Linked DNA regions of Homo sapiens. Changing the gene in region 1 together with any one later gene gives a genetic interaction. Each region holds a gene or a part of one and is shown on either strand. Other genes may lie near its edges.

The links.
Region 2: changes in CDCA8 (region 1) and TCOF1 together harm fitness more than expected from each alone (negative genetic interaction), as found in Homo sapiens cells (one large-scale study listed by BioGRID).

Annotation. Positions count from the first base shown.
Region 1 is NC_000001.11:37,700,540-37,706,015, reverse strand, and holds part of CDCA8 (borealin), read right to left. Parts: intron 4,263-5,476; coding exon 4,198-4,262; intron 2,765-4,197; coding exon 2,669-2,764; intron 576-2,668; coding exon 449-575; intron 1-448.
Region 2 is NC_000005.10:150,363,498-150,368,973, reverse strand, and holds part of TCOF1 (treacle protein), read right to left. Parts: intron 4,862-5,476; coding exon 4,722-4,861; intron 1,131-4,721; coding exon 1,057-1,130; intron 259-1,056; coding exon 72-258; intron 1-71.

The sequences.
Region 1 (5,476 bases):
AACGTGGTGAAACCCCCATCTCTACCAAAAATACAAAAGTTAGCTGGGCATGATGGCGTGTGCCTGTAGTCCCAGCTACTCAGGAGGCTGAGGCAAGAGAATCGCTTGAACCCAGGAGGCAGAGGTTGCAGTGAGCCGAGATCGCACCACTGCACTCCCGCCTGGTGACAGAGCAAGACTCCATCTCAAAAAAAAAAAAAAAAAACCCACAAAAAACAAAAACAAAACCAAAAAACAGAAAAACAGAACCCAGAGCTGAGCAACGATCTTTGCAGTCTGGGCCTCTAACCTGGGAGAGAAAACTGGGTTCTGAGTCCCGCAGAAGTGTGGAGATCAGGACCCACGCACTGAAAGGACTCTGAGGGTGAAGCGTGGGTGAGGGCCCAGGGAAAAGAAATGCTTGACTAAGCAGCACACTGTGGCCTGGCTTCCCTTGGAAATACTTCACCTCTCCGCCGCCCACTGGCACAGTGAGGAAGATCTCTTTGCTGTCAGCAAGAGGGCTGCCATTCCCTGAGATGTTGTAAATCCGCTCTCCTGCTGCTGGAGTACGCAGGCCAGGGGTCTTGAAGACCCTAGAATGGGAAAATCTCTGTGAAGATAGCTTGGCAATTGGATGACACCAAACTCTATAGGCCATTTTAACCTTACTCTGGCCTCAAGTTGCAGTTTTTAAGTCATACATTCCTAAGAAAGCACGTTCTAAATTTAGAAAAAAAAAATGTTTTAAAGCAGTAATGACTAAACACAGCTGGAGAAAGAAGGTTGTAATTATTGAACATACATCTTACAAAAAGCCAACTCTTATCCACATAAAGTTTAGGTCCAAAGCTCCATATGGGTGCCATCATCCATCCATCCACAAAGCCAGAAATACGCTGGTTAATTGTTTCCAGGCGTGGCTGCTTCCATCAAGAGGAATTTTTCAGAGGCAAAGGAGGATGATTTAGATATTACATCATTATACTAATTTCTCAAGACAGTTAAAATACTGCTACCTAGTTTTCCCTAAATGCCTTTTGTTACATATTCATGTGAGAAAACAAACAGTAAAGAAAAGTGGGAACTGGCTGAGTGCCGTGGCTCATACCTGTAATCCCAGCACTTTGGGAGGCCGAGGGGGGTGGATCACCTGAGGTCAGGAGTTCGAGACCAGCCTGGCCAACATGGCAAAATCCTGTCTCTATTAAAAATACAAAACTTAGCTGGGCATGGTGGCATGTACCTATAATCTCAGCTACTCAGGAGGCTGAGGCAGGAGAATTGCTTGAACCTGAGAGGTGGAGGTTGCAGTGAGCCGAGATTGTGCCATTGCACTCCAGCCTGGGTGACAGAGCGAGACTCCGTCTCAAAAAAAAAAAAAAAAAAAAAAAAAAAAAGTGGCAATTAAAAGTAGAAAATAAATCTTCAACACTTCCCCACACCAGAGATAACCACTTCTTGCTCTCCTCCCCAGGGGTAACCACTCTGAATTCCTTATCTATCCTTCCAGAAACTTTGTATGTATATAAAACCAAATGGGATCATACAGCACAGTGTTCAGCAACCTGCTCGGAGATGCTCTGTGATCACGGTGCTCTTTCCCTGTCAGCACACACAGATCCAGTCTTTTTTAATGGCTATACAGCATCTCCTATTTGGTCAACTAGGTTCTTTGGAAGGTATTAACTTATGCTGCAAGAATATCCTCGCTTATGCCAGCCTCCAAAAAAGCAGTATCAATTTTTACTTCTACCAAGAGTACAGGAGAGTGCCTACTCATCTTTAAAAAACTGATTTGAGGCCGGGTGTGATGGCTCATGCTTGTAATCCCAGTACATTGGAAGGCCGAGGTGGGCAGATTGCTTGAGCTCAGGAGTTCGAGACCAGCCTGGGCAACCTGGCGAAATCCCATCGCTACAAAAAAACAAAAAATTAGCCAGGCATGGTGGCATGCTTGGGAGCTAAGGTGGGAGAAGCACTTGAGCCCGGGAAGTCAAGGTTGCAGTGAGCCGTGATTGTGCCACTGCTCTCCAGCCTGGGCATTGGAGTGAGACCCTGCCTCATAATAAATAAATATTTTAAAAATAAAATAAAAACCTTCTGATTTGAATCAGAAAAGGCCAAAAACGTCACCTAGAGGCCTCCTAGTCATCACAGGCAGAATATTCACCTCCCTCCCATTAAAGAATCATTTTGCCACTGAAGATAGGTGAAACTACACTTAAGGGAGAGGCATACACCAGGAAACCCAGCTGGCCACTGTCCTCTGACAAGGCATCCCAGGCCAAGGACTCGGGACTATTTTCTTTTCTTTTCTTAAGACAGAGTCTCACTCTGTTGCCCAGGCTGGAGTGCAGTGGTGCAATTGCAGCTCACTGCAACCTCCACCTCCTGGGTTCAAGCAATTCTCCTGTCTCAGCCTCCTGAGTAGCTGGGATTACAGGCGTGCACCACCACACCCAACTAATTTTTGTATTTTTAGTAGACGCAGCGTTTCATCATCTTGGCCAGGCTGGTCTTGAACTCCTGACCTCAAGTGATCCGCCTGCCTCGGCCTCTCAAAGTGCTGGTATTACAGGCGTGAGCTACCGTGCCTGGCCTAGGAGTATTTTCTTAGACACTCCTTCTCTGGGTAGTGCTCAATGTTGGAGTCCCATCAAATCCAAGTGTTTCCCTCGATACTCACCTTGAGTCAAACCTGGGTGTCAGGCCTGGAGTTGGTTTGACCATGGACACCTCCAATCGGCCCACGGCTGGGGTAACAGTGTTAGCACGGCTTGACCTACAGGTAAGAAATGGCCATCAGGTATGCCAACTCTCAGGTTCCACGAAGGCAGCAGCAGAGGAGTGACACGTGGAGAGCTGACTGTGAGATACTGCTCCGGGCGCCTCGCACACATCGACTCACGTGACCCTTCTAACACGGGAGGCCAGCACTGCTGCCATCCTCATACACAGATGCAGAAACTCAGGTGCATCAAGTTTTAAAAACTTGCCCAAGATCACATATCCAATTAGGATGGAGCCAAAACTTTGAACCAAAGTAGTCTGCCTCCAGAATCTGACTTTTTTTTTTTTTTTTGAGACGGAGTCTTGCTCTGTTGCCCAGGCTGGAGTGCAATGGCGTAATCTTGGCTCACTGCAACCTCCACCTCCTGGGTTCAAGCGATTCTCCTGCCTCAGCCTCCCGAGTAGCTGGAACTACAGGCATGCACCACCACACCTGGCTAATTTTTGTATTTTTAGTAGAGACAGGGTTTCACCATGTTGGCCAGGCGGGTCTCAAACTCCTGACCTCAAGTGATCCACCTGCCTTGGCCTCCCAAAGTGCTGGGATTACAGGTGTGAGACACCACACTCAGCCTCAGAATCTGACTTTTTAATCAAGGAGACAGCCTCTTCATGCGAAGGCTCCCCCAGCTGGAATTCTGTCCTTGTGCCAGGCAGCTGCTGCACTGCTCAAGAGAAATGAGTTCGCTCCTCCACAGACATGCATCCCGGTGACTACTCTCCTAAGCTGCTGTACCTTCCCCCACATGGCTTATGGTAGAGTCCAGTATAATCAACTCAAGCCCATAGAGGTTCTTCACTTTGCAGGACTGGACAAAACATTTCAAGAAACCAATTATAGGTAAGTGACAGCCACTCTATGACGAGCTATGGGGTAGCTCTACATATGGACTATCAGGAACTGAAACATAACAGGCAGTTCTTGCTATACTTAAAAAAAAAAAGTGGGGGCTGAGGTGGGTGGATCACCTGAGGTCGGGGGTTCAAGACCAGCCTGACCAACATGGAGAAACCCCGCATCTACTAAAAATACAAAATTAGCCGGCATGGTGGCACATGCCTATAATCCCAGCTACTCGGGAGGCTGAGGCAGGAGAATCATTTGAACCCGCGAGGCAGAAGTTGCAGTGAGCCAAGATTGCACCATTGCACTCCAGCCTGGCCAACGAGATTGAAACTCCGTCTCAAAAAAAAAAAAAAAAAAAAGTGGGGAAGGATAGAGAATGTACATTAAAGTACTGGAGATGGTTTTGGTTTAGGTCATTTCTAGAGACCCCTCCAGCTTGGATACTCAAGGATTCAGTGATTTTAAGCTGCTTTCAAACACTAGCCACCAGAGCCTTTTCACTGCCCCTCACTTTCTGCCATGATATATATGGCTCTCCAATAAAACCCAAAACACCACAACTTTAGAAAATCCACTACCTTTTCCCTTTTCCTTTTCCTTGTATGGACTGAGTTCTCTTCTTGGATGGAGGACACCTTTTGACCTGCAGTCACAATCAAATGAGACTAAGGTTACAAAAAACCCAGCAAAGAGGAAGGTAAGGAGGGTTTTTTTTTTTTTTTTAAAGCATTAAGAACAAGCTTTGGATAGTTAATACTAAATATAATAAGGTGTATCTCAGAATTCAATGACTTAAAAAGTTCAGAACATAACTAATTGAATAAGGACTTCCACTGGCTGGGTTTTCAAAATAGAGGATTTTGACCAAGATTAAAGGTAAATCTCTTTTGAACTGATTGCAGCCTGGCTTGTACCCCACTACTTTACATAAAGGGCTGCTGTGAAGGTCACTCAGGGCGTCCCAGGTGCCCAATCAAAGGCAAACCCTGCAGTGCTCCCTTCCTGGGGCCTGGGAGGTCCCTGGCAAGAATCACTCCTTATCTTCCATATATTCTCTCCTCCCTTGTCCTCCGTGATGGATCTGTCTTTCCTGCTTCTCTAACTTCCTTGGCAGTCTGCCTTAGGAGCTCCTCTCTCTACCCTCCCTCTAGTGTCCACCCTGACTCCCTCCCTTCCTGCTCTCCCTGCACAACCATCTCCACTCCCACACTGGGACAAACACCTAAAGATCTGGGAGGCAGTGTATCTCTCAAATCTCCCTCTTCTCCCTGAGCTCCAGGCTGAAATTTCTGTCTAGCCTAGATGTCCTGGAAAAGTAATGAATGGTCAACATGTCATGCAATTGGCATGTGCTCCACCACCCCCAGTCCAGCACCCTCTGCCACCTGGGTCCCACACCTCACTGGATAGCATTTGCCTTAGCTAGAAACCATGCAGTTGTCTCTGATTCCTCCTTTTCTCCACCAACCATGCCACTTCTTTCTAAAACCTATCTAAAAACCATCCCTTCATTCTATAGTGTCAGCATGTCAGTTCAAGAATTCATAGGCTTCTAACTGGTTTCCTCATCTTCAGTTTTCCGCCTCCCCCATCTATCCTGAATACTGTTCCTCTTCCCTTTCTTCTCTAGCTAGTAGACTCTCACTCACCTTGAAAGGCCTGTCTATGTCCTAGTGGGGTAGGGGAGGCTTGCTAGCTTCCTCTTCTGTGTTCTACACACTTTGCACACCAGTCAATTATCTCTTTTGTCATTGCCATGTAAAGTAGGATCATCTCTACTAAACTGTGAGCTCTGGTGTACAACAGTGTATTTTATGCATTTGTATTTGCTTGTCTTGTGATAACCCCCAGCCTCCA
Region 2 (5,476 bases), on another chromosome or scaffold:
AAGCAATGCCTAGGCCTGCCTCACCAGCCCAAGTTCTGGGGACTAGGTTCCTAGAGGTGGGGACTTCTTACCAGGCTTGGCAGCAGCTCCAAAGGCCGGGACGCTGCCCTCCTCCTCAGTTTCTGAGACCAACGTAGTATTTGCTGAGGGCTCTGCTGACTTCCTGGGAGACTTCCCAGAAAGAAGGTTGGCCACCGTCTTCCCAGTGGCAGGGTGTGGCATGGAATTCCCAGTCTTGCCAGCTTTCTCTGTCTCTGCCTACAGAGAACAAGAGTGACAGACACATCTGGTATGGCATGGTGAACTAAGAGCACAGGCCACTTGCATCTGAACCCAATCTTACCACTTCTTAGCTGTGTGAGTTTGGGTAAACTACCCCTTCAATCTGTTTCCCAATCTTTAAAGTGAGGTTAAAAACAGCACCTCCTCTCACCAGAGGTGTTGAGAAAACAGAATCCCAGTTCTTGGGACATGGTAGTTATTTACTAAGTGGTAAGTAGCAGTTTGTTGTTGATCTTATCATTACTTCATAATTACTTTGAGACATTGTTGCTAATGCTCCAGGCAATCGCAGAGGCACAATTCTTTATACATGTATGTATCTAACTCTGCTTTCTGGATTATTAGAAAATGACACCTTGTTTTTTGAGCAGTTTCCAGTTTGGAAAATGCTTTTAGAGTTTCAGAACCACAGATGTCTTGATCACTACGGTGCCTCCACACCTAGCACAGTGCCTGGAACATAACAGGTATTAGTCAAGATCTGTTGAGTGAACGGGTGAACGCAGGCATGAAAGAGGAAAGAAATCGCCTACCCCAGGTGTAGAATGTGCCCAGTGGCCCACTGCAGCAGGCATCATCCTTATCTTTATAGAAAAGTAAACTGAGGCCCAGAGAGGTGAAGGGACTAAGATCCCACAACTGGTGACACAGGTTGAGCTCTGAATCCAGGTGGGGCAATTACTCACAACCCTATCCTTCTCTGACATGTAAGACTGTCCCCTACCAGGCACCTTAAATCCCATAGGCAATAGCTTGGAAGGCAGTCCCACTCACCTTGGCTTTTTCTTTCATGCTTGATGGCAAGTCCGCCCCCAGGACTGAGGAGTTGGTAGATGCTAGTCTTGGGGCTGCAAGAAACAAACATCTGCTAAAGGAGCCAGATGAGCTTTTCTCATCTATGAATGGCAAACAGGTTTCATCTCACCTAACAATTCTATTGGTATTGGCTGCCTGGTGCTGGCATGAGGATCTGAGGCTGAGCCCAGACTTGCAGGAATGAGCTCTGTGATGCATCAGCCAGGTCCACCAGGAGCAAGAGAGAAGAGGATGGTAACATGAAGCTATGTGTCTGCATCCTTGATGGATTCCCAACTCCCCCGCAGCATGAGACGTGGAGGCCCCTGGAGGGAAAAGGACTGGCCCACATTCTTGCTGCCTACTGGGCACTGCACACTGCAATGGGCACCATTCACACAGGCCACCACACTGTAGCCCTGAAAGCTGTTCGGCAAGAAGGGGCAGTGGTCAGGCAGGCAGCCAGCCTCAGGTCCACAGAGAAAGTTGCCTGGAATTCAAATGGCTTCTTAGTGGAGAGGTGGCTGAACCATGCCACCTGGGCCCCGTTAGATATCGATATTCACTGATTCTCAGTGCTTATTTATTTACTGGGACAGAGTCCTGCTCTGTCGCCCAGGCTGGAGTGCAGTGGCACAATCTCGGCTCACTGCAAGCTCCGCCTCCTGGGTTCACACTATTCTCCTGCCTCAGCCTCCTGAGTAGCTGGGACTACAGACGTCCACCACCATGCCTGGCTAATTTTTTGTATTTTTAATAGAGACGGGGTTTCACCGTGTTAGCTAGGATGGTCTTGATCTCCTGACCTCGTGATCTGCCCACCTCGGCCTCCCAAAGTGCTGGGATTACAGGCATGAGCCACCGCACCCAGCTTCTCAGTGCTTTTATACCAGGGTATTGTCTCCTTAAATCTCAGATTTCTTTTTGTTAAGAAGAATGTTGGGCCGGGCGCGGTGGCCTCACGCCTGTAATCCCAGCACTTTGGGAGGCCGAGGCGGGTGGATCATGAGGTCAGGAGATCGAGACCATCCTGGCTAACAAGGTGAAACCCCGTCTCTACTAAAAATACAAAAAATTAGCCGGGCGCGGTGGCGGGCGCCTGTAGTCCCAGCTACTCGGGAGGCTGAGGCAGGAGAATGGCGTGAACCCGGGAAGCGGAGCTTGCAGTGAGCCGAGATTGCGCCACTGCAGTCCGCAGTCCGACCTGGGCGACAGAGCGAGACTCCGTCTCAAAAAAAAAAAAAAAAAAAAAAAAAAGAAGAATGTTGCTGAGATGAATGGCATGATCTAATTCTTTTCCTGGCACTTCACTCCATCTCTCTCTTTCTGTAATTATGGAAAATTTTTAAGTAGTAAATAGAAAGGAAGAACCAGGCAGCTCCAACCATTAACAACTTGTGACCAATCTTTTCATCTCATGTATTATCTCACTCACCCTTCCCCATCAAGCATTACTTTGAAGAAAATGCCATAGATCCTACCACGTTGCCCACAAATACTTCAGCATGTTTCTCTCTCAATGAGGATGCGTTTTTAAATTTTTTTTGAGACAGGGTCTTGCTCTGCTGCCCAGGCTGGAGTACAGTGGCACATTCATAGCTCACTGCAACCTCCAATGCCTGGACTCACATGATTCTCCTATCTCAGCCTCCTGAGTAGCTGGGACCACCAGTGCATGCCACCATGCCCAGCTAATTTTCTTATTTTTTGCAGAGACGGAGTCTCACTATGTTGCCCAGGATGCCAACGAGGACTCTTCTTCCTTTTTTTTTTTTTTTTGAGACAGTCTTGCTCTGTTGCCCAGGCTGGAGTGCAGGCACAGTCATGGCTCACTGTAGCCTTGACCTCCTGGGCTCAAGTAATCCTCCCACCTCAGGCCTCCTAGGCAGCTGAAACTACAAGCACACGCCACCATGCCTGGCTAAATTTTAAATTTTTTGTAGATACAGGGTTTTGCCATGTTGCCCAGGCGGGTCTCCAACTCCTGGGCTCAAGTGATCCTTCTACCTTGACCTCCCAAAGTGCTGGGATTACCGGTGGGTGTGAGCCACCATGCCCAACCCAGTGAAGACTTTTAAAAAAATAAAATTACATACCCGGAGGCTGAGGCAGGAGGATCACTTGAGGCCAGGAGTTCAAGGCCAGTCTAGGCAACATGGCAAGACCTCATATCAAAAAAAGCCCCAAACAAACAAACAAAAAAATGTAATTACACCTCCATTATCACAGCTTATAAAATTGATTAATACCAAATAGCCAATCAGTAAGAAATTTTACCATTTGTGTTTCAAATAGCATGCAGGTCTGTATATATGCATGTAAGAATACATGTTTGAATGAATATAGAGGCAAAGGAGGAAGTTTTAAAGGTTACCTATGAGGAGATGCACTTAGGAATGATAGGGAACAGGGTAGGACAACAAAAAACCTTTAAGTTTTCTTCTATATGCTCTTCTACAGTTCAAAGTGAACTCGTTTTGCATTTATAATGTAAAATTAAGCGATATATAATATATATCCAGGGCGCAGTGGCTCATGCCTGTAATCCCAGCCCTTTTGGAGGCCAAGGTGGGCGGATCACCTGAGACTAGTCTGGCTAACATTGTGAAACCCCGTCTCTATTAAAAAAAAAAAAAAAAAAAAGAAAGAAAAAGAAAACCCACAAAATTAGCTGACAGTAGTGGTGCATGCCTGTAGTCCCAGCTACTCGGGAGGCTGAGGCAGGAGAATCACTTGAACCCAGGAGGCGGGGGTTGCCCTGAGCTGACATCACGCCATTGTGCTCCAGCCTGGGTGACAAGAGTGAAACCCCGTCTCAAAAAAATAATAAAATATATACCTAGTATGATCTCAAACACTTTAAAAGCAGACTCAGGAAGCTGGGCATGGTGGTATGTGCATGGAATTCCACCTACTCAAGAGGCTAAGGCAGGAGGATCACTTGAGCTCAGGAGTTCAAGACCAGCCTGGACAACATGGCAAGACTTTGTCTTGAAAAATAAAAAATAAGTATTAAGAAATGTGTCTTCTATGTAAGCAAAAGAAGATAATACGATGCAAAGGAGACACAGCAATTCCTCTGTAGAGTTATGGCTGCTGTTGGGGAAAGTACAAGGAGCCCTGGGACCTTAGGAGAAGAAGGGGCTATAAAAGCTTTGACTGAGTTACTCCTGCAAACGGTGTAAAACCAGTGCCCAGTACAGCGTTCCAGTGCTAATGGGTACAATTCTAAATGAACATGAAGATCAGCAATTCCTAAAGCATCCCACAGGTCACACAGAAAATGTGTCCGCTAGCTGCTTTCTGAAATCCCTCCAGCAGTACTTCTGAACGTGTGTCTTCTTTCCAGCTAATAAGAATCACCTGGGAGCCTGTAATAGGGCAGCTCCTGGGCCCCATACACCAAATGAGACTGGAAGGGCCCATCTGGTTGTTTTGGTTCGGCCTTGCACCCCCAGAGCATGGAGATATAATGCCTGGCACGGAGGAAGGGCTCAAATACTGCCAAAGATATGTGGTGCCCTCCCAATCTCCTCCCCAGGGTCTTTTAGGTCTTCTAGTGATAAGAGAAGAAGCTGGAGGTAGACTCTACCCTAGAACAATCAATATTCCATAGCCTGTTCCCAAAGCTGCAAGGCTCTTACTGGCTTTGGCGGTTTCGGCTTCTGCTTCTTCCTCCTCTTCCGAGCTCTCCGAGGTGCTGATGGGGTCTGACACACGGGTTTTCTTAGCTTGCAGTGCCGCATCTTCCTCTGCCTTCCGCTTCCGACCAAGCTCTGAGGTTCTGCAGGACAAGGGTGACTGTCTATACCAACTGGGTGACAGAACAACTCCACAAGAATTGACTAGACAGACCTTCCCGCATCCTTCCAGCTCTTAAAGGCAATGTGCATAGAATCTAAACAGTGGTGAAAACACAGTATAGGCACAATTTTGTATTCTGCATTTTCACTCACTTCATAAAGTGCTTTTACAATTCTTGATTAGTCTTTAAAATAATCAGGAATGCTGGATAATGTTATATAACAGCTGCAGCAGCTACCAGTCTTTAAGTGATAGGAGCTGACCCATGCAGGCACCTCACAGAACCGCCCAGGCTCTTCCCCCTGCAGAACATGCTGTGTGTACTGTGCCTTCTTGGAAGACTCTGCCCAGGTCCTCGTCCTTCCCGTCTCAACTTTAATGTAGCCCCCCAAGAGAGGCCCTCGAAGATTGCCCCTCTTCCAAGGCATGCTCTGCCCTGTGATCCTGTTTCATTTTCTTCATAGCTTTTCTCTATCTCCTGTTATTTTACTTACTTCCTAGACTCCTCCCCTACACAGAAAGGCCCAGGGAGGAAGGCAGCTGGCAGCTCACTACAGTATCCTCAGTGCCTCACACATGTCTCAAAAACTGAACA